2 separate regions of the Homo sapiens genome follow, and region 1 is linked to region 2. Evidence: fine-mapped expression QTL. A gene starts in region 2. The other region holds a variant in brackets. All regions are shown on one strand. Distances are between the middles of the regions.

Region 1 (15,094 bases), 31 kb before region 2:
CCATGGAGTCTCCAGGCCAAACCAAGCTGGAGTTTCAGCTTAGGTAACAAATGTTACCTAAGCCCAGTGGTTCCTAATGGAAGATTTGGTTCTAGAAAACCCATCTGTAGTAAACATCTGCCATTCTTTTTGGAGAACTAGTAAATCATTCCCCTTCCTGTGTCTGAGGACTTATTCACCTTGGTTGGGGATAGACCCCACCTCTCACAACGAAGATGTGATGTCAGATACTGTATTTCTCAGACTCCCTTGCACGTACTTGGCATGTCAAGGGCATGTGGTCTAGGTTCTGCAAGTCAGATGTACCTACCAGAGTCTTGGGTCCATGAGGAGTATTCTGTGACAGCAGTAGTAATGACAGGGAAATCACATTCTCATAACAGCCATAGTGGACCCTCCTGGGGACTTGCAAGTGATGCACCCTAAAACCTAAGCTTCCTTAGGTTCACAGTAACTTCCTGCTGTTTGCGATTAAGGACTGTGACTAGTGGCATATCAGTCCAACAGGGTACATGGCTAAGGCAAAAGTGGAGTCTAGGAGAGCACAGACATTGTTAAGAGGACAGTAAGTGAAACCATTTAGCAAGAACAGAGGATTCTTTCACAGGGGTGGGGAAAGATAAGGCTGGAGGGCTCCAAAAGCCCACTTAAGGAGCCTGGTCATCATCTTCTAAGAGGTATCAACATTGTTTTAATGATTTTTATTTTGGAATAATTTTAGATTTACAGAAAAATTGCAAAGACAACACAGAGTTTCTGTGTATCCCTCATCCAGATTCCCCTAATGCTAACATCTCACATGACATGGTACACTTGTGAAAACTGACAAGTTACATCAATTAAACTCCAGACTTGATTTGGATTTCACTAGTATTTTCCACTAACGAACTTGATCTGTTCCAGGATCCAATTCAGGATACCACTGTGCATTTGGATACCAACTTTTTTTTTTTTTTTTTGAGTTGGAGTTTCGCTTTTGTTGCCCAGGCTGGAGTGCAATGGCACCATCTTTGCTCACCACAACCTCCGCCTCCTGAGTTCAAATGATTCTCCTGCCTCAGCCTCCCAAGCAGCTGGGATTACAGGCATGCGCCACCACACCCAGCTAATTTTGTATTTTTAGTAGAGATGGGGTTTCTCTATGCAGACTGGTCTCGAACTCCAGATCTCATGATCTGCCCACCTCAGCCCCCCAAAGTGCTGGGATTACAGGTGTGAGCCACCACGCCCGGCCACCAACATTTTTAAAGAAGAATATTAACATGATTAAAGGTTTTTAGGCTGGGTGTGGTGGCTCACACCTGCAGTCCCAGCACTTTGGGAGGCTGAAGTGCGTGGATCACTTGAGGTCAGGAATTTGAGACCAGCCTAGCCAACATGGTGGTGTTTACTAAAAATACCAAAAAAAAAAAAAAAAAAAAAATTAGCCAGGCATGGTAGTGTGCACCTGCAGTCCCAGCTACGTGGGAGGCTGAGGCAGGAGAATCACTTGAACCCAGGGGGCGGAGGTTGCAGCGAGCTGAGATCATGCCACTGCACTCTGGCCTGGGCGACAGAGCAACGCTGTCTCAAAAAATAAAAATAAAAATAAATTTAAAAAAAATAAAGGTGTTTTAAGAAAATCATCTGATAGCAACATAAAGGGTGAGCTGGGAAGTGGAGTAGAAGGCATCTGTAAAGACACTCCAGAACCTTCACCAAGCTTCCACATACATTCTAATGGCTAGTGCCTGAAGGGCACTTTATGAAGGTGCAGTTGCTGAGAAGAGAAAATCTAGCCCCCCAGAAACATCTCTCCACCTGTTCAGGGACCCAGGGGCCAAAGGCACAGCTAAGATGCACCTGGTGGCCTCCACCTAGCAGTGCTGGCAAACTAGGTTTTCCTGCCCAGGCTACAAAATTTGGCTGGTAAATCCAGACAGGCAGCCAAGGAAATGCTTGCTTGCCTTCTTTTCTGAAAATCTAGTCTTATCTCCCTTATGTAATGGTTTGGTGTTATGCAGAGAACAGGCTCTGGAGTCAGGATGGACCTAGGTGTGAGTCCCAGCGCTGTCAGTTACTGTGGGACTCTCGTTGAGTTACTGAACTCTGAGCTTCAGTTTCCTCACTGGTAAAAACTGGCACCTTAAACCTCCTTCACAGGATTATTGAGAGGGTTGAATAACATTTAGAAAGTGTTCAGTAGGGTAGCTGGCACACAGTAGGCATCTGATAATCATCAACTCCTTTGACAATTTAAGAGTAGAGTCCAGGCCCCAAATTTCTTGCATATTCTCAGTGCTTAGTACACAGAAGGGACTTCCTCAATTGATGATCGTAATATAGAGCTCACAAATAACCCAGGAACCTGAGAAAGGGCGGAGCGTGTCTCCAGTCAATAATTTCTTTATTTAAAAGTCTATGTTAGGCACTCATGAAACAGCAATAAATAAATAAATGCCAGGCATTGTACTAAATGACCAAGACATGGTCTATGTCAAGAAGGTCAAGGCCAAGGACATCAAAGAGATGTCTCCAGACAACTTTCATTCAGGTATGACACGTTTGACAGAAGTTTAATAAACAGGGTGCTCAAGGGCACAAAGACTGGACATGGTGTGGGGTGAGGGAAGGGCTCCACAGAGAGAGGAATGGTGGGCTTGGGCCTGGCAGGGTGAGTAGTTCTTCCAGTGTAAAAGCTTGGGGTGGTGGGTGGGGGGTGGGAGAGAAAGAGAGAGAGAGAAACATTTTGTCATGTGGGAAAACACATCTGAAGCTATGGGTGGTCTCGTGGGGTTTATGGTAGGAGTGATGGGAGATAGGGTTATAAAAACATGGTAGCTCTCATACCTCCACATAGGAGAGGCTGAGGGGCAGCTCTCTGGTGGCAGGGGTGGGGCAGGTGACCTGACCTAGCAACCACTGTTCTTTTTTATACATCATTTAGTTGATGTGGCTTGGGGAAGAAATGATTACTGGTAGTAGTAATTGGGGGGCAGGGGAGGGGCCATTCCTGCCATTCCTAGGCATGGCCACTGCTACAATGGGGACCATATGACTGCTATGGAAGAGGAGGAGAGGTGGGATGAATGCTGGGGAGTCAACCACAATTTCCACTACACCTTCAACTAGAGAGACAGAAACAGGTGCAGAGAAGATTTGAAAGATTTCAGAGATGAATAGGCAGAATTTGTTGAGAATGAGTGTAAGTGGGGGGTCAAAGATAACACCAAGGTTTTTAATGTGGCCAACGGGGTGAATGGAGAAGCAGGGGAAATGGCTTTGCTGGCTGGGTTGGGGTAGGGTTGGTGGTGGGTATGCGGGTGGGGAGAACTGTTTTGTACCCATTGAGCATAAGGGATCCGGGTTGTGAAATCCATAGTTTGATATAGCTCTAGCTTTAAAAGACATCCTCCTGTTTGGGATTTGCTTCAGAATAATGAGAGTGGGGGTAGGCTGTAGGTGAAACCAGATTGGTTCTGAGTAGATAACCGAAGTGGGTGAGAAAGTCGAAGTTGGCGAGAAAGTCGAAGTTGGCGAGAAAGTCGAAGTTGGCTCATGCTAAGAAGGTAAAAAGCTGCCCTGCGACTCAACAGGCTGGGAGGACATTACACAGCTAAAGCCAGTCACAAAAGTTACCATGAAACAGTATTTCTCCCACGAGCACGTTGTAGCCGTAAAGTGTCATAATGACCCCTTTCCTTGTGTGACTACTGCTTTCTGACTCATAGAGAAACCTTGTTCTTTAAAATCATGAACTATCAGAAACTTTGCTGTGTGAAATGTTAAATGTTATCAGTAAAAACTTTGCTGTGTGAAATGTTAAATGTTATCAGTAAAAATTCCTTTTTTTTTTTTTTTTGGCCAGAAGATTCTAAGTCACTTTGACACAGAGAAGTTGTCTTGGTTTCCAAGCCAGGTTCAGAGTTTCACGTAAGGAGCTTCTGAACACAAATTCCATGTTTGTCTTAACTTTGTACTTTCTAGGGAAACAAACCTGAGTTCACCGAACAGTTCAGAACAGACTCCTTTATACACAGTCCTGCTTTGCTTTGCACCTATCCAAACAATGCTTCATTCAATTTTACCAAAACTCTAGTTTTCCTTAAAATCCTGTAACGGTATATTTTCCTGTTTGGTGAGATGCCCCACAGTTCCTCTGGTATGTGGTCTTCCTCATTGCAATCTGACCTTCTCAAACTCAAGGTTCGTTTCTGGTGATCTTAGGCTGATTGGGCTAGAATGTGGGTATGGGGGTACAGGGGTGCTTGATACCATTCCCTCTTGCATATGATTCACATTTTCCATAAAATTTCCAAGTTCATAAGAAGTCTTCACCCCATGAGAATAGTAGGAGCCATGATAGTGTTTGAGATCTGCGGAAAGCAGAATAGCAGCCTCCCTCCCACCCCGCAGCTTAGATTTCCCAGAGGGGGCCAGTGTAATCACGTGGGTCCTTGAAAGCAGAGAAGGATTCCTGGCTGTGGTTAGAGATGCAACACTACTGGCTTTGAAGATGAAGGGGCCACAAGCCAAGGAATGTGGGCAGCTTCTAGAAGACAGAAAAGGTAAAGAAACGGAGTCTCCTCTAGAAACTCCAGAAAGAAAAGCAGCCCTGTTGATAACTTGATTTTGTCCCAGTGAGACCCATGTCAGAGTTCTGACCTCCAGAGCTGTAAGATAATAAATGTATGCTGCTTTAAGCTGTTACATTTGTGGTAATTTGATAATGGCAGTGATAGAAAACAAATCCAAGATCACGCAGAGGGAGTGGACGAAGACAGAAATGAGCCAAGGGTACCTTGGGGACACCAACACTTTCGAGGAAAAGAGAAAAAGATGGCAGCCCAGGAAGCAGAAGGGGAGGCATCAAATGTAGGGGAGCCAGGAGAGACCCATGAAGGAGAAAGTGGTTCAGAAAATGTAAACTGCTATTTAAGTGAGGGCTGAAGAAGGTTAAATAGTATTAAAATTTTAAAGTGCATGTTATTTCGTTGCATCACTTCCTCTGTGATTCTGGTATTTGCATATAACAAACAATCTCTTTTACTTGAAATTATCACCTTCTGAGAGTTTGAGAACTTTCACAACCTTGATCCTTGTTATAAACCCATCAAGGTAATATTCAGGTTCCAGAACAGCAGGTTTTACCACATCGTAAGCCAGAAAGAAATGCAGCTATTTCTTATGTGTTAATCCAAATTTTTTGACGCTGGGAGTTGGCCTAAACCAAGAATAACAGCCATCCAGACTGGCCTGAGTGTAGAGTAGGGACCGTTTTAGTGTGACCTCCACTCTCTAGCGTCCACTTTAAAAACCCACGGTGCCCAAGGTTTCAGCCTGCCTTCCTGTGGTCCTAATCTGCACACTTACAGGCTCCACCCAGACCTACTTGTCCCTCCCCCACAATTTAAGATTCAAAATTACTGCTGCTCATTAATATGTTTACTCTCTACAGATGATCTCGGCTACAAATTTGGAAAATGACAAATATCACCTAGGTTACACTGTTGATGGCCCGCACTATCCTAGAGGATATTTACTTTTTTTTTTTTTGAGACAGAATCTCGCTCTGTCACCCAGGCTAGGGGGCAGTGGTGCAATCTCGGCTCACTGCAGCCTCTGCCTCCCAGTTCAAGCAATTCTTCTGCCTCAGCCTCCCGAGTAGCTGGGACTATAGGCCTGCACTACCATGCTCAGCTAATTTCTGATTTTTAGTAGAGATGGGGTTTCACCTTGTTGGCCAGGCTGGTCTCGAACTCCTGACTTCAAGTTATCCGCCCGCCTCGGCCTCCCTAGGTGCTGGGATTACAGGCTTGAGCCACAGTGCCCAGCCAACGTTTACTTTCTAAAAGGCAATATTTACCAATAGAGATGCTGAATTTGTAGACTTTCAGGCTTTAAAACTAGGTGAAGAGTGTAGTGGCTTACATCTGTAATCCTAGCACTTTGGAAGGCTGAGGCAGGAGAATCACTTGACACCAGAAGTTGGAGACCAGCCTGGGCAACATAGTGAGACAGTCTCTACTAAAAATAAAATAATTAGTGGGCGCGGTGGTGTGCACCTATAGTCTCAACTACTCAGGAGGCTGAAGTAGGAGGATGGCTTGAGCCCAGGAGTTCAAGGCCGCAGTGAGCTGTGACTGCACCACTGCACTCCAGCCTGGGCAACACAGTGAGACTGTTGTGGGGGAAGAAAGGAACGAAGTACTGATACATGTTACCACTTGGATGAACTTTGAAAACATTATGCTCAGTTAAAAAAAAAAGTTACAGGAGACAACATAGTATGATTCTATTCATATGAAATTGCAGGAATAGGCAAATCTACAGAGACAAAAGTAGACTGGTTGTTGCCTAGGGCTGGGAGTTGGCAGCAGGGAAACTTGGGGGAGATGGGGTATGGGCTTTCTTTTTGGGGTGATGAAAATGTTCTGGAATTGTGGTATTGGTTATACAGCCCCATGACTACTATACTACAAACTATTGAATTGTATACTTTATTTTTTGTTTTTATTTATTTATTTATTGAGATGGAGTTTTGCTCTTGTTGCCCAGGCTGGAGTGCAGTGGTGCGATCTTGGCTCACTGCAACCTCTGCCTCCTGGGTTCAAGCGATCCTCCTGCTCTGCCTCCTGAGTAGCTAGGATTACAGGCACACACCACCACACCCGGCTAATTTTTTGTATTTTTATTGGAGACGGGGTTTCACCATGTTGGCCAGGCTGGTCTCAAACTCCTGACCTCAGTTGATCCACCTGCCTCAGCCTCCCAAAATGCTGGGATTACAGGCGTGAGCCACCACGCCTGGCCTGTACACTTTATTTTTAAGAGATAGAGTCTCGCTCTGTCACCTACAAGTGCAGTGGCAGGATCATAGCTCACTGCAGCCTCCTGGGTTCAAGCGATCCTCCCACCTCAGCCTCCCAAGTAGCTAGGACTACAGGCTCACTCCACCACACCTGGCTTATTTTTTTAATTTTTACTTTTTTGGAGAGCTGGCCTCTCGTTATGTTACCTAGGCTGGTCTCAAACTCCTGGCCTCAAGCAATTCTCTTACTTTGGCCTCTCAAATCTCTGGGATTACAGGTGTGAGCCACTGTGTGTGGCCTGAATCGTACAGTTTAGATGAGTGAATTGTATAATATGTGAATTATGTATCAATAAAGCTATTAAAATGTTTTAAATAAGTAGGATAAGGAAATTGCCATACTTTTATATTAAAACATTACTTTTTTTTTTTTTTTTTGAGACAGAGTTTCGTTCTTGTCGCCCAGGCTAGAGTGCAGTGGTGTGATCTCAGCTCACTGCAACCTCCGCCTCCTGGGTTCAAGCGATTTTCCTGCCTCAGCCTCTCAAGTAGCTGGGATTACAGGCATACACCACCACGCCCGGATAAATTTTGTATTTTTGGTAGAGATGGGGTTTTGCCATGTTGCCCAGACTGGTCTTGAACTGCTGACCTCAGGTGATCCACCTGCCTTGGTCTCCCAAAGTGCTGGCATTACAGGTGTAAGCCACCTTGCCTGGCCTATGTATTTGTTAGAAACCAATCTCACATTCATTTCCCCAAAGCATAAAGGACAGAAACACAGATTTCTGTCTTCTGGGGCACTCTTACGTCCCCAGATCATTCATCTTCCTGTGTACCTGCAGAACCGTCAAGGGTTCAGTGCAGATCTGCTCCTGTGAATCATGGACCTGCAGGCTTCTGGCAATGGAGCACTTCAATCCTATAGAGCCATGTATTTTTCTTCCCTTAACAATAAATTCTATTTGAAGGGTAAAGAGCACAACAAAAAATTTTTTTTTTTTTTTTCCTGCACAGAGAGATCCACTCCATTAACGTTATCTGGAAGTCATTGGGTAAGGTATTTAGACAAAGATAGAGTGCCGGGCGGGCCAATCTTAAATGTCAGATGCTTAACTTTTGGGTTCTTGCTGTTTTCTACCTTTTTCTTTTGGCCAGGTTCTTTAGCTCTAGGACAAGGGTTTAAGTTCCCCACACCTGTCCCCTATGTCAAGAGTGGCAGATGGGAAGAGATAAAGAAGCTTCCTGGAGTTCATGCTCCATTTCCTGCTCTGGGGGGCTCACATTTAAGATCCCACCCACTCTTGAGCCACTTTATTTCCCTTCTTCATGCATGGCAGGTAGGGCTTGGGTTAGAGTTCTGGGAGCAATTTGAAAATTGCTAGTTGATATGGTTAGGCTTTGTGTCCCCAGCCAAATCTCATCTTGAATTGTAATCCCCAGGTGTCAAGGGAGAGACTTGGTGGGAGGCGACTGTATCACCGGGACAGGTCCCCCATGCTGTTCTCATGGCAGTGAGCTCTCAAAAGATCTAATGGTTTTATAAGGCAGGTTTCCCTGCTCTTTCTTGCACTCGCTCATTCACCTGCCACCATGTGAGATGTGCCTGTTTCCCCTCTGCCATGATTGTAAGTTTCCTGAGGCCTCCCCCACCATGCGAAACTGTGAATCGATTAAACCTCTTTCCTTTAGAAATTACCCAGCCTCAGGTAGTATCTTTATAGCAGTGTGAAAACGGACTAATACACTAGTCTAGAGGTGAATTTAGAGCAAGCACCAAGAGATACATGCTGAAATAAATGAGCAACTGAATTAGAAAAACAAGCATAACTTAA[G/CTTAAG]TAAACTTTATTTTCAAAATGCTTCAGGTACAAAAGAAAACAATGGCAAAGTCTAACAATAATTAACAAACCAGCTCTTGAGCGGCAGAGTGCTCCAGGGATGAGAGGGGCTGGGGATGGAAAGGTGGTTGGGAGACACAACATTTTTCTAGCTTCAGAAAGTCAGGGAGCCCAGATCACAGCCTGAACTTCATGGTATTGGTTACAGATTCTTTACAAAGGTGTTTACCTGTGGGAAGGAGAAAATCAGAAGTTTAATTTCACATTTTTAACAGAATTTTCAATGGTCCACCCCCAATGCATATGCAGCCAAGCCCATGAGGTTTTTGTGAGGAAAGGAAAATAATAGGCATGGAGAAGAAATGTGGGCAGCCCAGGGTCATATAGCATCAAGTGGCAGAGCTGGGAATAGAATCCAGTAGTCTCATTTCCCTAGTTTTAGGATGCCTTAGAGAAGAAAGTCAGCTGGCAAGCACATGTTACAAGTCAATTATTTAACAATTATTAGTCCAGCATACTTTAGAGAATAGGGATATTTGTAATCTGCACAAGATTCCATAGGCCTTGGAGTGTGAAATGCAATGTGAGATGCAAAGCACAAGACCCATGATATTGAACTTTGAAGCAAAGGCCAGAAAGATAAAAGTACAACAAAGGAAACCACCAGAAAACAGGAGTTAAAGTCCTTCCCACCTCTCTCATGAGGTCTTCTTGTTTGGTTACTTCCTCAGAAAAATCATCATTGACATCCAACACCAGCACTGGAATGTTCATCAGAGCCTCAAAGTGGAGCCTATAAGAAGCGTGAACGTTTGGGGGACAGAAAAAAAGAAATGTAACTTGAGTCAAGTTTCACATACTCGCCAAGTCTTACTCAGAGAACAGATCTAAATTCAACATGACTTTTCAAAGAAACTGCATGTAAACTGCATTTAAAAAAACAAATTCAATAAAGTTGGCCGGAAACAGAAAGGTTGAGGTTTCTCTTCATTCTTGAGAGTGATACTAACAAACAGTCAGAGCACCAAACATTTTAAGTGGACAACAAACCAAGCCTAAAGGGAGGACAGGCAGAAACCAGGAATGCCAACTTAGTAATACTGACAATTTCTCTAACATTTTCAGCCCTTCATGCTGAGCCAACTATCACCATCAATCACAATGTTCAGTCTAGGGAAATGTTAAGAAACAAAGAAAAAGCTGGAGAAATACAATCTAATAAAAAGGCCCTTGGAATGTAAAGATTATATTCAATATTAAACTTCTTCTGGGCATCTCACTCTGTCGCCCAGGCTGGAGTACAGTGGTGCGATCTCGGCTCACCGCAATCTTTGCCTCCCAGGTTCAAGCGATTCTCCTGCCTCAGCCTCCCGAGTAGCTGGTATTACAGGCGCCTGACACCACACCTGGCTAATTTTTCTATTTTTAGTAGAGACAGGGTTTCACCATGTTGGCCAGGCTGGTCTTGAATCCTGACCTCAGGTGACTGCCTCAGCCTCCCAAAGTGCTGGGATTACAGGCGTGAGCCACGGTGTCCAGCAATATTAAACTTCTGAGTTGGAAAATGCTTGACATTTCCAACCATTTCCAGTATATTCTGAACCTTCCTACAGGGGGCTGCATGCTGAACTTGTTTTTAACAACTGGCTGTTGGGAGCCAGGTCTCTGTCTCTGATACATTCTTTTCTCCCCACTTACTTCGTTGTCTTGTGAATAAGCCAGGCTTCGTGTTGGCCATGCAGCTGCTCTAGATAGGCCAGCTCAATTCCTTTCTCCTCCTCCCTGGCCCTCTGGTACAGTCTCTTCAAACAAACCTAAAAGACAGTCCCCAAGCCCTGATGAGCTCTTTGCTGTTTTGGCTGCTACAATGCAGTCTTCGGGGGCTCTGAGGCCCACCCATAATGTCTATCTTGGGCATTACAAGCCATGCCTTTGCTTCTGCTGTCTTGTTTTCTTATGCAATCAGAGGATCTACACCATTCTTTTCCCATCTCCACCTTAAACCTGCTCTTCCTCTGAAGTATCCTAAGTCGGTTAATGATGAACATCATCCATCCAGTCATCCAAGCCACGGACCTGGAATTTTCCTTGTTTTTCCTTCTCCCTACTATATCTGGGAAGTCACTCAATTCTCTTTCATCTCTCTAGAATGTTCTCTCCTTGCCTCTCCTCTCACCTCTGCCCTGGTCGGGTCCTCTTTACTTCTTACCTGGATTATGGCAAGAGCCTTCTGGTTCTGCCTCCTGGAGGCAGGGAAGCATATGGACAGAGTACAGGCCTTAAGGTCAGAAAGTCCAGGAGTAAATTCCTGCCTTCATAAGGTACTAGCAGTGCAGTCCTTGTGGGCTTCTATTTCCTCATTGTCTACCCATCCACAGGTCACTGAGGTAAGTTGTATTGAGCTCCTGGCAAAAGCTGTTCCCTCCTTCCAGTTTTTCCCCTTCACTCCACCCGTCTGTAGTACGGCAATATAATGACATGACTTTCCTTGCTGAAAATACTTCACAGGCTCTTTACCGCCTACAGCCATAGCCCCAGGGTTCAAAGCAGTATGTATGAATAGCATTGCATTTATAAAATGTTAGGTAATTTGAAATATCTCTTTCATGTCATACCAAACATTCACTCAGGAATAGAATGTAAAATTTGCACAGGTCAAAGATAAAACAAAGAAGTGGAAAAACAAGTGAGGCTTGAGACTAACTCTCCTCCCCCGCTGCTTTGCAGAGTGTACATAATTCTATTCTGCATTCATCTGGTAGTGAAGTTTGATGCACACTGGCTCAGAAAATGACATCTTCTTTACCTGTCACACAAAGCTACCCCTCCTACTTCTCAACTGCCTTAGCTCTTCCCCTGGACTCACTGCTTTAGCCAGATTTGACCTCTTTCCTGGGGAACAGGCCAGGCTCTTTCACACCTCAAAATTTTTGCTCCAAATGTTTGTTTTGACTGAATTATCCTCAGTCCTCTCTCTGCTTGACAAACATTTCATTATTCAATATCATCTGTCCTGGAAGAACAGATGGATTAACCCACTGATTTAGGACTTCACTCTTTTTTTTTGAGACAGAGTCTTGCTCTGTTGCCAGGCTGGAGTGCAGTGGCGCGATCTCAGCTCACTGCAACCTCTGCCTCCCAGGTTCAAGTGATTCTCTTGCCTCAGCCTCTCAAGTAGCTGGGACTACAGGCGGGAGCCACCACGCCCAACTAATTTTTTGTATTTTTAGTAGAGATGGGGTTTCACCATGTCGGCCAGGATGGTCTCGATCTCTTGGCATCGTGATCTGCCCGCTTCGGCTTCTCAAAATGCTGGGATTACAGGCGTGAGCCACCGTGCCCGGCCAGGACTTCCCTCTTTCAATAACTTACTTAAGAAATGAAAACTTAATTTCCAAATGTAGTACACAATAATCCCAAAGACTTGGGAGTCTTTGCTGTTTCCCTCTTATCTTACCTTTTCTCTAAGGAAATGAAATTATAGAAACAAATTTTATTAATGATCAAAAGGTATATGCACTTGCAATTATATACTGCCAGACTGCCTCCTTAGAGGTTAACCAATTTATATTCCCACCAGAAAGGTAGCTTTAGGATTTCTAAGCATAGCAAAGCTATCATCTCATTTTCCTTTCTGAGAAAAAAAATGTTGTCTGTTTCGTGAAAATAAATTTTTTTAAAATGTGACTTTATGTTTCCAAGTACACACACAAAGGCAGAACAATTCTTTTTAGGAAAGCTATTTATAATTATTCATTCACTGCTTGCAGACAAACCTTGACACTAACATTGATCTATTAAAATAAGCTAACATATTTCTATTTACTATTAATTTCCTTAACAGAGCAAATGGATTTCCCTGAGAAGTCTAAGTCTTAACTGGTGGCAGTATTGAGTGGGGAAAAAAAAAGAGGTCGAAGTAAACTCCTACTATGAGCATTTGGCATAACTCTTGCTTTACTGATATCGCTATAACAAATTCTATTTAAAAAAATCCCGTGCAAACAGTGCTTTAGTCTGACCCCTCTTCATCTCAGTCCTCATGAGGAAGACACACCTGAATGTGAACAGGAAAGATAGTGTAGCTACAAGTGGCGAGGGAGAGACCCTTTACTGGTCTTCTTAACCTGTCCCACCCAGGAAGAAGAACTGCTGCTCTGCTTGCTTGGAGTCAGAAACAGAAAATGGAAAGTGACTGCTAGTGGGTCTTTTCACTATGCCTCTCAAGCCCAAACCCAGGTGCCATTTGTCCCATGCACCTCCTGCATGCTGTCCCCATGCTGTGCCAGTCCCAGGTAGGGCCTGGCTTTTTGATGTACATTGATCAGCTGCACTCTCTTGATTCCATGGGGCTGGCTAGGAACACTGAGGCCTAGCTATTTCTCTTTTGAGTTTTAAAATTGTTAGCTTGCTTGTGTTTTAAAAAAAATTTTTAGAGATGGGGTCTCCCTATGTTGACCATGCTCGTCTTGAGCTCCTGGCCTCAAGCAATCCTCCCATCTCAGCCTCCCAAAGTGCTGGGATTACAGGCGTGAGTCACCGTGCCCGGCCTGAGTTGCCTTTTCTAAAAAAAAAAATTTATTTATTCATTTATTTGAGACAGGGTCTTGCTTTGTGGCCTAGGCTGAAATGCAGTGGTGTAATCCTGACTCACTGCAGCCTCAATCTCCCAGGCTCAAGTGATATCCCACCTCAGCCTGCTGAGTAGCTGGGAATACAGACACACCACCATGCTTGGCTAATTTTTAAATTTTTTGTAGAGGGCAGGGGGCTCTCACTATGTTGCCCAGGTGGGTCTTAAACTCCTGGGCTCAAGCAGTCCTCCCACCTTGGTCTCCCAAAGTGCTGGCATTGCAGGCATGAGCCACTGCACCCGCCTGGTCCAGTCTGGCCCGGCTTGCTGGCTTTTAAGAAGTTAGGGGGCCAGACGCGGTGGCTCATGCCTGTAATCCCAGCACTTTGGGAGGCCGAGGCGGGCGGATCACGTCAGGAGATCGAGACCATCCTGGCTAACATGGTGAAACCCCGTCTCTACTAAAAATACAAAAAAAAATTAGCCGGGTGTGGTGGCGGGTGCCTGTAGTCCCAGCTACTCGGGAGGCTGAGGCAGGAGAATGCTGTGAACCCGGGAGGCGGAGCTTGCAGTGAGCAGAGATCGTGCCACTCCAGCCTGGGCAACAGAGCAAAACTCTGTCTCAAAAAAAAAAAAAAAAAAAAAAGAAGTTAGGGAAGAATAGGTAGAAAGGAGCAGAAGGACCTACGAAGTCCATCTGACATGCTCGAAACTCAGTATTTACGAGGGCTCTGAACTGGAAGATTGGGCACTTGCACAGCTTTTTACATAGTGACAGGACAACTTCTATTCTGCTCTTCCCTTGGGCACAGTTACCTCTGAATTTCACAGAAGAGGTCAAGTGTGACTTCAGGGAAGAAACATGGGCATTCCTGCATCTCTGGAACTAATGCCATCAAAACAGCATTAAAATCCCCATCTAATCTCAAAATGAATAAGCTATTTTTCTTTTCTGCCATTAAGTTGTAATAATCCTTCAACTCTTCTCATTCTACTCCAGCTGAAATATTTCAATTAGCCTCTCCAAAAGGGCAGATCTGCCCCCAAGTGACGACGACGACGACGACGACGACGATGATGATGATGATCATCATCATCATCATCACCATTTGCTATGGTTTGAGTGTATCCCCCCAGAATTCATGTGTTGGAAATTTGGTCCTTAGTGTGGTAGTGCTGAGAGGTGGGGCCTTTAAGAGGTGATTAGGTTGTTAAGACAGATTAATGCCACTCTCTTGGGACTGGGTTAATTCTCGCCGGAATGAGTTCTCACTCTCGTGGGATTGGACCAGTTGCCATGAGAGTGGGATGTTATAAAGCAAGGCTGCTCCTCCTATCTTGCCCCTTTTGCACATGCCTGCTCCCTTCCACCTCATCATATGATGAGGCAGCAGGAGGTCCTCAATGGAAGTTAAGGCTGCCCAATTTGGACTTCCCAGTCTCCATAACTGTGAGCCAAAATAAGCCTCTTTATAAATTAACCAGTTTCAGGCATTCTGTTATAAGGTCATTCAGAGTGCACAAAGAAGAAAAGCAATTAAGACTTTCTTGTTCTCCTTGCTGGGTCCAACTTCCACTCCCCAGAAACAAGAGCCTCTTCAGCTGGCCCAAGTAGCCCCATTTTACTCCCAGGAATGAGTCAGCCCACTTCCTCTCTCACTCCTCCCCAATGCTGGCTTCATGGCACTGAGCTGAATGTGCTGTTCTCTTGGAAAAGGTTAAGTCAGCATTCTCACTTCTCCTAATGCTCAGCTCGTCCTGAGAACCTCCTGCTTCTTTCAGTCCAGCCATCCCAAGACTCCCATAGGAAACCTGTCACTTCTTCAAATTCCAACCAGGATCTTTACTCAATCCAACCTCACAGCACTCTCACTCCTCTTTGGCCCAGGCCACAAG
Region 2 (15,094 bases):
TAATAGCTAAAAAGCTATTTTAATTAAATGAAAAGATAAACGTAGCTGATTTGTTAGATGGCTGGGATTGAACAATTGTTAGAATTACTTATATTTTTTAAAAGTTAAAAACAATTACCTTAAAAAACTGTTGCAGATGGAAAGGAAGGGCTCTGAGGTCAGACACTATTAGTTCATCTAAGAGCAGTCAGGACTCCAAGAAATTGACTCATGCAATTTAAACACATTAATTCTAGAATGCCAACAAATTAGATGTAACAGGAAATATACAGTTCCAATGACTGGAACAATAACACCTAATACTCAGGGTACTCTGTAACCCATGCCCCATTCCAAGGCTTCTGGAAAGCTAGTTTAGTAATCACAAGGCAGCTTCAGCATACAATGACAGTAAATGGTGGTGAAATGTCCTGAGAGCTGTGCCATCCATGTTTCTCAGCCTTGGAGAGCCTGGGTAATTCACTACAGGGCAGTATTTCTTAAACTAATTCCACTGGAACTGAGCTGTGCCAGGTACCACCCACAGATGTGGAATAATTACTTTAAAAAATAATTCAAAGTTACATGGTTTTATTAAAGCCAGACACAGTATAACTTTCTCAGTGCTGTGATACCTGATCATCATAGATTTTTTTTTTCCCTTCTTGCTGGGGTGTTGTTTGTTTGTTTGTTTTGACAAATGTTTCAAGATGTTCACAGGGGGTTCCTAAGAGTGGTGGTGTTTTGCTCTCCATTGCTTCAGAAGCCTCCTCCTAGTGACCAGAACACCCCTGTCTACAGAAAGCCATACTTCTTCAGCCAATCTCTTATGATATCACTATCTCAGACTTACTGCAATTTAGTTAGATCCCAGCTTAGCTGCTATCTTTCCTTTTGAGATGGGGGTCTCTCTCTGTCACCCAGGCTGGAGTGCAGTGGTGTGATCTTGGCTCACAGCAACCTCTGCCTCCTGGGCTCAGGTGATCTTCTCACCTCAGCCTCCTGAGTAGCTGTCCAGTATGTTTGACCTGTCCAATATATTGTTTGTTTATTTATTTATTTTTGAGACAGAGTCTAGCTGTTGCCCAGGCTGGAGTGCAGTGGCACAATCTCGGCTCACTGCAACCTCTGTTTCCTGGGTTCAAGCGATTCTCCTGCCTCAGCCTCTTGAGTAGCTGGGACCACTACAGGTGTGTGCCACCACGCCCGGCTAATTTTTGTATTTTTGGCAGATACAGGGTTTCACCATGTTGCCCAGGTTGGTCTCAAACTCCTGAGTTCAAGCGATCCACCTGCCTTGGTCTCCCAAAGTGTTGGGATTACAGGCGTGAGCCACTGCGCCGGGCCACTGCTGTTATCTTTCTTTCCTTTTTTTTTTTTTTTGAGACAGAGTCTTGCTCTATTGCCCAGGCTGGAGTGCAGTGGGGTGATCTCGGCTCACTGCAACTTCCAACTCCCGGGTTCAACTGATTCTCCAGCCTCTCAGCCTCCCGAGTAACTGGGACTATAAGCACGTGCCACCACACCTGACTAATTTTTGTATTTTTAGTAGAGACAGGGTTTCGCCATGTTGGCCAGGCTGGTCTTGAACTCCTGACCTCAGGTGATCTGCCCGCCTCAGCCTCCCAAAGTGCTGGGATGACAGGGGTTAGCCACATCGCCCGGCCTGTCTTTCAATATACTCTCAGTATTATGAATTTTGGAAGGTATCAGAACTTACAAGCAGCATCAAACCTTCCCTTAGGACCCTGGCCACCAGTGTTCTCTGTTGTTATATTGCCACAACCTTAAAAAAAGGTGGAAGGTACTTTCTTAAGAGTATATTACTTCAACATGTTGATTTTCATTAGCTCCACTATTCTCATTCCACAAGCTGGGACAAAGAGTTCTGTTGTTACCACTCATCTTTTTCTAAGGCATGTTTTTTTCTCCCCACAAAATTTTCTATAAACTGACAATGCCTACCATAGCTATGTAATGCTAAAATCTAGCAGCAAGATAGCATATGATGTAATACCCAAAATAACAGATCCCATTATTTTACGTCTAATACAGCTGTATTTCATAGGAGCCTATATTTATCACCTCTAGGCATTTTCATCTCCTGAACAAGATGAAAAACATGAGAAAAAAAATCCAATTCTGAAATCTTTTACCAAAATCCAACAAAGTCAGAACATATAAAACTGTCTAATGTCTTTTTTAAAAAGTCCTTCCAAAAAAAATTGAAGTCTTTATTTCAGATACTGTATTTGATGCTGCATTCATTCACTCACTCATTCAATCAACAAATGTTTATGGAGTAGCTACTCAGAGGTAAGTACTATAACTGAAATGATGATCTAGGCTGAGAGCTTGCCCTCAAGTTATATTCCAACCCCAAGACTGAGTACCCAGGATCATACAGGCTCCAAGCTTAAAGGCATTCTAGGCAAAGTTAATAAAAATCAGTCAGCAGGCTTAAAAAAAACTTAATACATTTTACTTTGATGACCTTTTTTCATGAAAAACTGTTTACGAAAAAAAAAAGGCAAAAAATTTTCTCACACCTTCCTATGATCCAAACTCATCTGCTCAGCACAAAAGACCCTCACTGATCTGACATCCCCTCCTCCCGCCTTGCCTACCAGGTGATTCAGCTTTCCACTGCCACCTTCTCTGTGAAGCCTCCTTGAACTCTCTCCAGCGCCACTTCATCTCTAGGCAGAGTTAATTACTGCCTGCTCTGGTTTACCAAAGGATTACGCTGTAATTATTTGTTCACTCATCACTCCCTCCAGCTAGACTGGGAGCTCACTTTTGAAGACAGAGACTGAACCTTTGCATCCTGAGTATGAGAACAGTGATGGAGGGAAGGAGGTGAGTCACAGGCACAGAGAATCCACTATACAGTATTTGAAATAAATAGGCTATTTTTTCCCAAGGATTCTTTGCCCAATCATTTATACTTAAAATAAGTAAGACACATATTAGTGATGTGAAGTCACTAATTTTGAATGCTGGAGGAAACATGTTATTAGGGAAGCCCTCTACTGCTTTATGTTTAAGTTTCTTGATTGAAAAGTGCAAAAGAGTTTCCTCTTTTCTGGTTGGGTCTTTGAAAATAAGGTAAAAATGCTGAGATGACTCACTGACAGTGAGATTTCATACAGCAATCTTTTCTTCAATTTACGCTTGTAATCGTAAGATAATCACAAGAAGATGATAATACACTGTAGGGATGAACAGTCTTAAAAGACAGGCTAGGTGTTTTATTTTTTAGATTTTCAGGGGTTCTAGGTACCAAGCTTTTGACTTTCAATCACACATCTTATATGGCTTCGTAAGTCATGCTAGATGCCATTAGTTGCTACTTCACTGATCAATTTTCCTTACATGCCGCTGTCTGCACCTTCAGGATCAGAATAATAGGACTTAGAGCAGAAGGAATACAAGAAAAGCCCTCTAAACATACCCAATTTTGGTCAGGACAGGGGTTCACCTTCCCTGTTCAGGTTTCCTGAATGGGTGCTCTCATTCTGATTTGCTTGAGGATGTTACCTGTGATTAGAGAAGATGATCACTCTTGATTTAAAAAGCAGTTTAATACATTCCCTGTGTGGGTACCAATGCCTAACTTCCACATGGATATCATAGCACAGGATTCAAGAATCTGGTCAGTACTGAGTACACTGGGTCAAGGCGGGGGTTAGGTGTCAGCAATACAAAGATGAACAGCACACTGAGTGGTCAGAGCCCAAGGAAGGTGGTGAATGTGCAAACAAGCTCAGCAGAACTCAAGTGCTGCAGCAGTTGTGGGTACAAAATGTTATGTCAGCCCACAGAGGAGGCAGTGACTAATTCTGTCTAGGGAGAGTCATCAGGGTGTGTGGGGTGATGAAGAGTAGTGGGAGATGAAAGTAAAAAGAGTCAGATTAGGTCCTCCCATTCCACTTCGCATCACCCTTTTCTTGGGCAATTGCATTTACTTCCAAGGCTTCACCAACTACCCCTCTACCCACCAGTCAACAACTTCCACATCTGAAATCTCAGCACCCATCTCCGGACTCTCTTGACCTCAGGCACATATTCCAATCTGTCTCAGAACACCTCTATGTCTCACAGGCACCTCATACAAAACATATCACTCTAACCTCCCCAGACCGCCTCTTCCTTTATTCCCATCCTCATGAACCTCAGTGTCACCCTCCTCTACTCCTCCTCCTACCTCACCTCCAAGTGGCCACCACATCCTGTCAATCCCGCTTCCAAAATCTCTCTGAAACCGTCACTTCTCTGTCATTTCAGTTCTTCTATTCAGGCCTGCATCTTTCCTCCCTCCAATTACTCCAATAGCCACAAAACTAGTGCACAGACTCAACTCTGTTCCAATTCATCTATTCATTCATCCAACAAACTGGATGCAAGGCACTATGGGTACTGCAGCAAACAAAATATACAAAGAAAGTGCCTGTTTTATGGAGCTTTCTTTCTCATCCTACACAATTTCCTTTTTTAAATTAATCTGGTCATGGCACACACTGGCTTCAAGTGTTCAACAGCCTCCCACTGCCAACAGGATAAACTAGCATGGTCCACAAGGCTCTTCGACATATGGCAAATCCCACCCTTCCAACCTCTTGTTCTGCCACCCTTTCACAGGTCCCTTCAACTCCAGGCACATCCAACTACTTCTCTTTCATTAAAACTGCATGTGTTAGCTAGGCGTGGTGGCACATGCCTGTAGTCTCAGCTACTTGGGAGGCTGAGACAGGAGAATCACTTGAACCTGGGAAGCGGAGGTTGCAGTGAGATGAGATCACACCACTGCACTCCAGCCTGGGTGACAGAATGAGACTCCATCAAAAAAACAAACAAACAAACAAAAAAACCCCCAAAAAACTGCATGTGTTTCTTCAGGCTTCACCACCTTGGCACATGTTGCTTTCTATGGCTGAAACACTTTTCCCTCTTCTTCCTCTTGGGAATTCCTACCCCAGAGATTCTGGCTTTCCATGCCCAATCACAAATCTCACCACACAGTATGAAAATTATGTCGAGTCGGCCAGGCACGGTGGCTAACGCCTATAATCCCAGCACTTTGGGAGGCCGAAGCTGGCGGATCACGAGGTCAGGAGATTGAGACCATCCTGGCTAACATGGTGAAACCCCGTCTCTACTAAAAAATACAAGAAATTAGCTGGGCATGGTGGCGGGCGCCTGTAGTCCCAGCTACTTGGGAGCCTGAGGCAGGAGAATGGCGTGAACCTGGGAGGCGGAGGCTGCAGTGAGCCAAGATCACACCACTGCACTGCAGCCTGGGTGCCAGAGCAAGACTCTGTCTCAAAAAAAAAAAAAAAAAAAGAAAAAAAAAAAGAAAATTATGTCGAATCTGTTTTCTCCTACTTAGTTGTGAGTTGTGAGCTCCTTGAAGGACAGGAGCTGTATCCCATTCACTGCTGTGCTCAGCATGAGAGTGGACTCTTAGTCCTCACTCAGTAAGCCTCTGTTGCACAAGAAAGCAAGGAAGAAGCAGAGAAATTTGACAAGGTTAAGAAGCAAAAGTCAGGAAAATAGAGGGAGTTCAAACCTTATCTGATGACCTGTCCTAAGTACTTACTTTGTGACATACCCTGTTCTCTCTCTGGGATTTGAGGACAGAGCTTCCTTTAGGGGTGTGTTTCTCAAAGTACAGTACAAAACATCATATTTAAATAATAACATCATCAGGCAAATAGCAGGACTCTCCCTTCCCATTCCTTTCAATGTTTCGGATTTGGCTGGAGAAAAACACACAGCCATGGTGACTGGTCTCACTTTAAATTCATGACCACTAACTCCAAGTGGGTCCTAAATGGTACCCAGTAATTCAACATTTCTCTTGCTTATTCACTAGAGTATTTCATGTCTTCTGTCTCTACATTCACTCTTAGCTGATGACCTTTCTTCCTACTTCACTCTGAAAACAGACACAACCAAAAGACCTTCCCAAGTTCCCACCACACCCTCTGAAGTTGGTGCTCATATATTTTGCCATCACGCCTGTTACTAGGGATGAATTGTGCTCCTAGCTAAGACTAAATTATTTCCCACTGGGCAATAGATTCCATTCTTTCTTGCTTAAAAATCACTCCAGCAATTCTATCCTCTGTCCCGATTTACCAATTTTCCTCCTTTCCACTAGACCACTTCTGTCAACTTAAAAACATGCTCTAATTCTTTTCACAAAAAGAAAATTAAAAATGTTAAACACTCACACCCTCTTCTAATTTCAGCTACCACCCCATGACTTCCCTTTCTAAAAACTTCCAGTTATCTTAACCCACTCTCCTCACCTCCCATTCTCCTTGAACCTATACCAATTAGGCTTTCACTCCTAACACTCCTAAAACTGTTCTTTTCAAGTTCACCAAAGACCTTCATTTACTTAAACAGTATAACACAGCTGATCATTCCCTCCCACTGAATACCTTCTTCACTTGGCTTCCAGGATATCATTCTCTTTTGTTTTTTTCTCCTACCTCAGTAGGCATTCCTTCTCAGTCTCTGCTTATTCCTTCCCATCTCCCCAGTTTCATAATATTTGCATGCTCAGGGCTCAGTCCTTTCCATCAACACATAGTCTCTGGCATTAAATACCACCTACATTTACAGCTCCAGTCCGGGGAGACCCTAATTCTGAACTTACATATCCAATTACCTATTCAACACCTCTACTTGGATATTAATAGGCATGTAAAAACCTAACATGCTTAAAACCAAGGCTCACTTCTGTAATCCCAGCACTTTGGGAAGCCAAGGCAGGAGGATCAATTGAGCCCAGGAGATCAAGACCAGCCTGGAAAATATAGTGAGACCCTGTCTCTACAAAAAATATACAAAATTAGCCACGCATAGTGGCAAACACCTGTGGATCCAGCTACTCAAGAGGCTAAGGTGGGAGGATGGCTTGAGCCTGGGAGGCAGGCTGCAGTGAGATGCAATTGCATCACTGTATTCTAGCCTGGCAACAGGGCAAGACCACACCAAAGGAGGGGAAGCGAGGGGAGGGGAGGAAGAAGGAGAGGAGGAAATAAAAGAAAATCAGGAGTCTATCTTTCAAGTACTCAAGTCAAAATAATTGGAGTCATCATTGGCCCCTCTCTTTACCTTACACTCTGCATTCAACCTGTCACCAAATCCAATTGGCCCTATCTTAAAATATAACTAGAACCCAATCATTTCTCACCACTTCCACTGTTAAATTTTACTTAAAATGTAACTCAATTTTTGTTAACGTATAACTAGAATCCAATCACGTCTCACCACTTTCACTTTTCACAATACTATAATTATTGCAATACCACTTAACACTCTTCACTTTCAATGTTATCAGCCACAGTGATCTTTTTATAATCTAAGTAAAACTGTCACTTGACTCCTCAAACCTTCCAATGGCTACCCATCTCGGTAAGATTAAAAACCCATGATAAGGCCTATAAAATCTGGCCACCCCTTGGGCTTTTGCCCTAATTTCCCTCCCATCCTTGCTCACTCGACTTCAGTCACAACGATTTCCCTCCTATTCCCCGAACACACTTTCCACCTCAGGGCCTTTCCAATTGCTCTTCACTCTGCCTAGAAGATTCTTCTCCCAGGTATCCACGTGATTTGCTCCCTCATCTTCAGTTTTTTGCTCAGATGTCACCTTCTCAGTGAGGCCTTGCTTATTTTATTTAAAATGACAACTTCGGCCAGGTGCAGTGGCTAACGCCTATAATCCCAGCACTTTGGGAGGCCGAGGCAGGCGGATCACCTGAGGTTAGGAGTTTGAGACCAGCCTGGCCAACATGGTGAAACCCTGTCTCTACTAACAAAACAAAAATTAACTGGGTGTGGTGGCGGGTGCCCCTAATCCCAGCTATTCGGGAGGCTGAGGCAGGAGAATCGCTTGAACCAGGGAGGCAGAGGTTGCAGTGAGTCGAGATCGTGTCATTGCACTCCAGCCTGGGTAACAAGAGCAAAACTCCATCTCAAATAAAATAAAATAAAAACTTCCCTCAATTCTTCATCCCTAATTTTTCTCCATCATACTTATTACTCTCTAACATATTGTTCACCTTGCTTAATTTATGTTGTTTATTGTCCATCTCTCCCTACTTGAGTTCCATGAGAGCAGAGATTTTTATTTGTTCTATTCACAGCTGTATTCTCCAGGCCAAGAACAGTGCTGGCATATGGAAGTGGCTCAAAAGGTGATTTGTTGAATGAATAAAAAAAGAAATTCTCAGTTTGCTGCTACGTCTTCAGTACTCAACACTTGCTAAGCCCCTTTTAGGGGCTCAGTGACTTGGTAGATAAAAGTATCAAGTCAGAATTTATTAATATTAAATCGAAATGCTTTGCCTTCATTTTGCTTTCTGACTACTTTTTATTCAAGATACTGGATCTCACTCTTTTAACAAAATAATTTTTAATTTAATACATGTTTTTAAGTTTAAAAAGTGAGGTTCTTCTAAGAAAAGCCTTAAGAAATTATTATGCAACTAGCACAGGCACAGGGCAAAAATTGTGAATGTGGTATTTGAACGACTGAAATTTAGGAACTCTCTTCGAATAGGGTTGCCAGATAAAATACAGGACACAGTTAAATTTGAACTTTCAATGAGTGATTTCGTTGTTGTTTTGCTGTAAGGATGTCCCAAATATTGCATTGGACACACACTAAAAATTATTCGTTATCTTAAATTCTATTTTAACTGGATATTATTTTTAATTTCTGCTAAATATGGCAACCCTATCTAGGAGAACAAATAAACTGCACCCGCTTGTCGCTTCAATTTCGATCTATTACAAACAGCTAATACAATTCTTGTCCTATCCACTAACTGCGTGGCTTTTATGCCCCAACAAATATGTTCCTGTGGGCGGGTACTGAGGCCCGATATCCTAAAAACAAGGAGGCAAAGATACACAGTGCACTTTGCGAGGGGAAAGGCTCTCCTCGCAGCCCAGAAAAAGAGGCCGGCCGCATCAGACGCAGGCCATTCCGGGCCCAGCTCCTTTCCCAGCCTCTGTCGCCTGCGTGGCGGAGGCCAAGGCTTGGCAGCCGCTTTCCGGCCCTTACCAATGTTGCCTTCGATGGAGAGCCTTCGGGGCCCGCGCCCCGCGTGCAGGCCTCTGGAGGAGGAAACGCCCTCGAGTGGGCTCTTGGCCATGGAACTGAAGGGTGCTCGAAGCCGACTTAGAAAGAGGCGGCCCGCGGCCATCCCACCCACGATTCACACAGCGATCACTTCCGCCGAGAGCACTTCCGCCCTAGGTATCGCTGCTCACTCGCTCCAGCGCACCGTTGACGTAAGGAGATCGTCAGACAGGAAGTGGGTGGGGTTGAACATGCGGCGGGGTGCGCCCAAGAGACCGCTCCGCTATCGCGATGTTTGTAAAGAAGCGTTGAGTGAAGGAAGTTTTGCAACGGTGCAGAATTTGATAGTAAAAGGAGTTGCGGTGCGAGTGGTTTTTGTTCATTGGACAAATAACATTTTAAAAGACGTAATTCCACAATCCAACCACTTCATTTTTGTATAACTTTAAAATAAATTTTATAACTGAAGACAAAATTAAAAATAGAAATTGTAATTTTAAGAGGGGATTTCCCCCCCCCCAGGTGCTTGTTGTCTGGTTTTTATTTTAATATCGGAAGAAAATGGAAGTTTTAAAGTAGGAAAATGACTCAATCTGATGATTTACACAAATTTAACTTTTTCCTATTCCCTGTAATTCCCCTGCACAATGCTGGCATATTATTGACTAAATTAACAAATTAGATAATCAGTTACACCCCATCTCTTAGTTTGTGTCTTGAATAAGTAAATAAATGTTCGGTCAATCGATTTGCATTATACCCAAAAATCCCTTCAGGATAAGGTGGTGGTGGCTCAGGTATGTGACTGGAAATTGTTTAAACCTGGTAGGCTGGGTTCTTGGACGTAAGCAATGGCGAGTAGAGACTTGTATAAAACCTGAGTCCTGCTGTCGGTGAAGTGTGCTCTGCAGGAGGGCAGGGACCTAAGCTGCTGCCACAGGTGAAGCCGGACTGCCACACCCCGTCGTCATAACAACCTCAGAAGTAATGATTTACAAAATGTTGTCAAATGGTGCTTCCAGTTCCAATCGCTTAAATCACCAACAGTCAAAACCAGGAGTCAACAGGCCAAACCGGCCTTCAGGCAGCGCTCTTAGGTGTGGCAGGTTTTAGAAGACAAGGATCTGATTGCAAGGGGGCTGGGGAGGGGCCGGGGGCTGGGATACCTGTCTTGAAGCTGTTCCCATAAAAAGCACGGGACCTTTTTCTTATGTTGATGTATATATAGGATGGCTGAGGTCATGTTTATATATTAAGAACTTTTTTTTTAATCGAATTTTTTAAGGATAACCAGGGTGGGGCGTTAATGGCTACTGGAGCGGCTAAAGTCCTACCCATTCCCATCTCCACTCCAGCAGCCACTTCTGTTAAAACAAAACAAAACAAAACAAAACAAAACAAAAAACAAAAAAAAAACTGCTTACATTTCTTTACCTATGTAAACTCAGACTTGGAAAATATTCATCCAAAAAAGCTTGAGAGGCTCTCTGCCTCGCCAGGATCTTGCTGCCTCAGGGGTGTTGTGAAAGTTAAATGAGGAAGTTGTCTGCAGGCAGGCATTAATCTCCTAAAAGCTACGAGGCAGGAAAATAGGGTCTGGAGACAGGGAACCTAAGGCCGATTTAGGCTGACTTCCTAGAACTAAATCAAAAGGAAAACCCCAACTTTCTAGCCCAAGTAACAAAAGGACCAGAAGCTAATCCCTCTTCTGGGTGGCAGATAAAAAATTGAAAGTACCTCTGACTGGTCCCCGCGGGCAATCAGTCAGGCTGGTGGCAGGCCAAGTCTTTAGTTGCATGGGGTATAACTTCATAACTTTACTTCAGCCTCTGATTGGTCCCCTCCTGCAACCAATCAGACTGATCGCTGGCCACTACTTCATTTACATAGGGTGTACACCAGGTAACCAATGGGAAACCTCTAGAAGGTATTTAAACCCCAGAAAATTCTGTAATTGCTGCTTGCTTGGGCCCTTCCTACCGCAAGGAGTGTTCTTTGATGTACAATAAATCTGTGCTTTTGTTGCTTCATTGTTTCCTTGCTTTGTACGTTTTGTCCAATTCTTTGTTCAAAATGTCAAGAACCTGGGCACCCTCCACCAGTAACAGAGCTCCTAAAAATTATTTTTAAAAATTTTATGGTGAAGTGGCCTGGCGCGGTGGCTCACGCCTGTAATCCCAGCACTTTGGGAGGCTGACGAGGGCGGATCACGAGGTCAGGAGATCAAGACCATCCTGGCTAACATGGTGAAACCCTGTCTCTACTAAAGAGAGAGAAAAAAAAAAAAGCGGAGTGTGGTGGTGGGCTCCTGTAGTCCCAGCTACTCAGGAGGCTGAGGCAGGAGAATGGCCTGAACCGGGGAGGCGGAGCTTGCAGTGAGCCGAGATCGCGCCACTGTGCTCCAGCCTGGGCGACAGAGCGAGACTCCGTCTCAAAAAAAAAAAAAAAAAAAAATTATGGTAAAGCATAGTATGTAGTGAGGAAAAGAGGATGTGTTGTGCAGTGAGGAAAAGAGGATGTGTTGTAAGTGTACAGTTCAATGAAGTTTTCACAAATGGAATGACTGTTACCTGGATTCAGATCAAGAAACAGCATTATCCGCATCTCCAGAATCCCCCATATTCGTTGCCAGTTACTATCCCTCAAAGATAACCATTAGCCTGACTTCAACAGTAGAGATTAGTTTTGCGTTTTCTTTATATAAATGGAATTATATAGTAAATACTTCTTTTATTTAACATATCTGTGAGATTCATCCAGGTTGAATGTATTAGTTGTAGTTCACTCATTCTCATTGCTGTATAGTATTCCACAATGTCACTATACCACAATGTACTCGGAAGTTTCTAGATTTGAGCCATAATGAATAGTGTTGCGGTAAATATTCTTGTACATGTCTTTTGGTAAAAAGAAGTATGCATTTCTCTTGGGTGTATAAGTAAGACTGGAACTGCTGTGTAATAAGTTACATATATATGCTCAGCTTTGATAGATATTCCCAAATAGTAGATAGTTCCACAGTGTTTGTTCTAGTTGACATTGCCATCATCAGTGAGAGAGAGTTCTGGTTTTCCCACATTCTTACCAACAGTTGATATTGTCAGCTTTTTAAATTTTATCCATTTTGCTGTGTGTAATTATAACTTATTGTGGTTTTAATTTGCATTTTCCTGCTGATTAATGAAGTCAAACATCTTTTTGTATGTTTATTGGTCATTTCAGTATCCTCTGTTGAAGTCTTATGTCCATTTTTCTATTGGTTGTCTTTTGCTTGTCTTATTCTTCAAATATTCTGGATGAGTCCTTTGTGAATATTTTATCTCTGTGGTTTGCTTCTTTTCTTTTCTTTTCTTTTCTTTTCTTTTCTTTTCTTTTCTTTTCTTTTCTTTTCTTGTGTTGAGACAGAGTCTCTTGCCCAGGCTGGAGTGCAGTGGGGCAATCTTGGCTCACTGCAACCTCCATCTCCTAGATTCAAGCGATTCTCATGCTTCAGCCTCCCAAGTAGCTGGGATTACAGGCATGTGCCATGCCCGACTAATTTTTTGTATTTTTAGTAGAGACGGGGTTTTGCTATGTTGGCCTGGCTGCTCTTGAGCTCCTGGCCTCAAGTTATCCACCCACCTCTGCCTCCCAAAGTGCTGGGATTACAGGTATGAGCCACAGCACCCAGCCTCTAAAAACATTCAAAATTTTTTTGATGTAGAGTGTAATGTAAGAAACTAAAATATCTTTTGCCTAAGTTGCCTGTCAGTTATCTTAATTCATTAGTAATAATCTTTCTACCCCCCTTTAGTTATCTATGCTTGTTTTGTTAAATGTTTTTTATTTATTTAGGTCCCAATTCCAAATTCCCAGAAGGGAGAATCTGATTGGCCCAGCTGTGTTCAGGTATCTAATCATGGTTCAATCAGCTGTGGCCAAGGAAGAGGGTTGGGGCCCCACTTTTGCACATGAGGAAGTACAATTAAGGGGATCTTCATGAGGAAAGAAGACACCCCAAAGAGGTGGTGATCATTTCCTCTTCGAAGCAGTAAACACGGAGTTTTCATCCCATTTGGGTGCTAGCCAGAAGACTGAAAGTAGTGGCATATTGGTGAGTAGAATTACCTCCCCCTTACCTGGGAGAACGAGGCCACTTCCTGCCCCTGGGCGATTTTGTCCTGGGCAAAATGTTGTCCTGCAAGAACTCTAGTCATTCAGCATCCATTCATTCATCCAATATTTGCTGAGCATCTACTGCATGCCAGACACTCTGCTTAGTCCTTGAAGTGCAGCTCTGAAGGATTTACTATTTTTCCAGTGTTTCTAAATGCTACCGTATACATAAAATACTGACCAATATTATTTAAAATGTCATGCAGCCATTAAAAAAGGGAGATAAACATACAAAAATGTGGCCCAAACTTTATTCTGCAGCCTGGACTTTTAGCCAGCTATATCTCACCTACTTTGAAGATTTTATAATGTGCTGGATTGTGCTAAATCGATTTGGTTAAATTGGAAAGTACACTTCCAGAACGCCCTACCAACAAGGCTCTGAGTTAGAGTTGGCCAAAAGAGGACCTGGGGTGAGATTTGGAAGGCAGAGTGGGAGTGTCAGCCATTCCTCTGTGGAAATCTTCTAGTCAGATGCTATGACAGACAGAGGTGCCCAGCAGATAGGTTTCACCTAGTCCTCCACCCATTTGTGACTCCTCTTGGAGTATCCCACAGTTCCTTGCAGACTTTCACTTTTCCAGCTCCTTCAGTCTTTGGGGAAAGTGTCATTCCTGTAATAAAGCCCTTATTCCCATAATACCCATAATGGCTCTGCTCCCCTGAATGAACTGTATTGATACACCTAATCATAAAGGGAGACGTATCAAAAGGTGGTTAACAGTGTGGGCTCTGGATTCCAGTGACCTGGGGGTGAGGATTAAGAGAGAGAATCCACCTGCCACACCTGCCACACAGTTACCACCCAATAGACATTATATAACACATAATAAGTAATGGCTGCCTTCTTAGGCCCTCAGTGCCTGGGACATTGTTTCTCTCTCTCTCTCTCTGATAGGGTCTCGCTTGTCAGAGGCTGGTTTGAATTAGGCTCAAAGGATCTTCCCACCCCAGCGTCCCAAGTAGCTGGGATTACTGGTGTGAACCATCACACCTGACTTTTGTCGATCTTTAATAGACTTCCAGTTGGATTTCCACTTTCCTCAAGCCACTGTCCCTCTCTCTGTCAGTGGATAACTCCATATCCATTGAAGAATCTAGGTCAGCATTTTTTAAACTTGAAATAGAGTAAGACTGGAGTAGGGGTGGAAGGATGGGGAAGGGAGGTCAGATGGGTGCGGGGGGTTTGTGGGAACAGTCTGGGCAGCCTGCCCTTCTCCATGTGGAGGTCCGGATGCCCCTCTATAGCGCAGTGTCGGTGCCCTACATCTCAGATCGCTCCCGCCTCCTCCTGTGCCTTCTCTTCCAGCAACCAGAGCCTGCAGCTCTTCTTTGGAGGAGGCCTTTGCCGATACAGGTGGAAAGCCTAGGACTTCAGTCCTCCCAGGGAGCGCCCTCACCAACCACTGGCAGGTGGGACTGTGAAAGCCTGGCTCCCTGTCCTTCACCAGGCTAACCTTAGACTCCAGAGCTCCCAGTGGGCGGGGCCAGGCTGAAGCTGCCCTCTCCAGGACATTATCTGCAATTACCCCCTTGACAGATTTCCTCCCCTTTCCTCTTCTGCGCCCCCCTCCCCCGCACTCTGCTTACCAGCTGTCCTCAGAGCACTTCTTTAATAAGTCGTTTGCAGGGAATCCTCATTTCAGGGTCTGCTTCTGGTCCTCACACAGAAATCCCCTAAGGGCTTATGAAAGCCGCTCCTCCATCCCACCCCACCCACAGAGATCAAGTGCTGGGAGGGTGAAAGGAATGTCTGGCATTGAAGTGTCTGCGCTTAACCACTGGACTCCACTGTCTCCAAATGGGTATGTCTGGGAAGCTTCATGGACCAGGTGGGATCTGATGGGGGCACGAAGG

The links.
Region 1: its variant is fine-mapped to the expression of DGUOK in lung (TOPMed, PIP above 0.99). The same link has a PIP of 0.9 or more in whole blood.

Annotation. Positions count from the first base shown.
Region 1 is chr2:73,952,470-73,967,563 of GRCh38, reverse strand. DGUOK (deoxyguanosine kinase) reads right to left here. Exons shown (of 7, transcript NM_080916.3): 5 at 10,324-10,439; 6 at 9,319-9,418; 7 at 8,618-8,854. The coding sequence ends at 8,828. It overlaps DGUOK-AS1 (DGUOK antisense RNA 1), which reads left to right. Exons shown (of 2, transcript NR_104030.1): 2 at 9,357-9,597. Among named protein-coding and RNA genes, the nearest start is that of DGUOK-AS1, 21 kb to the left of the region's middle. The variant G/CTTAAG (reference allele first, on the strand shown) is at 8,626.
Region 2 is chr2:73,921,023-73,936,116 of GRCh38, reverse strand. DGUOK (deoxyguanosine kinase) reads right to left here and starts at 9,237. Exons shown (of 7, transcript NM_080916.3): 1 at 9,065-9,237. The coding sequence starts at 9,206. RefSeq lists an enhancer at 8,936-9,205.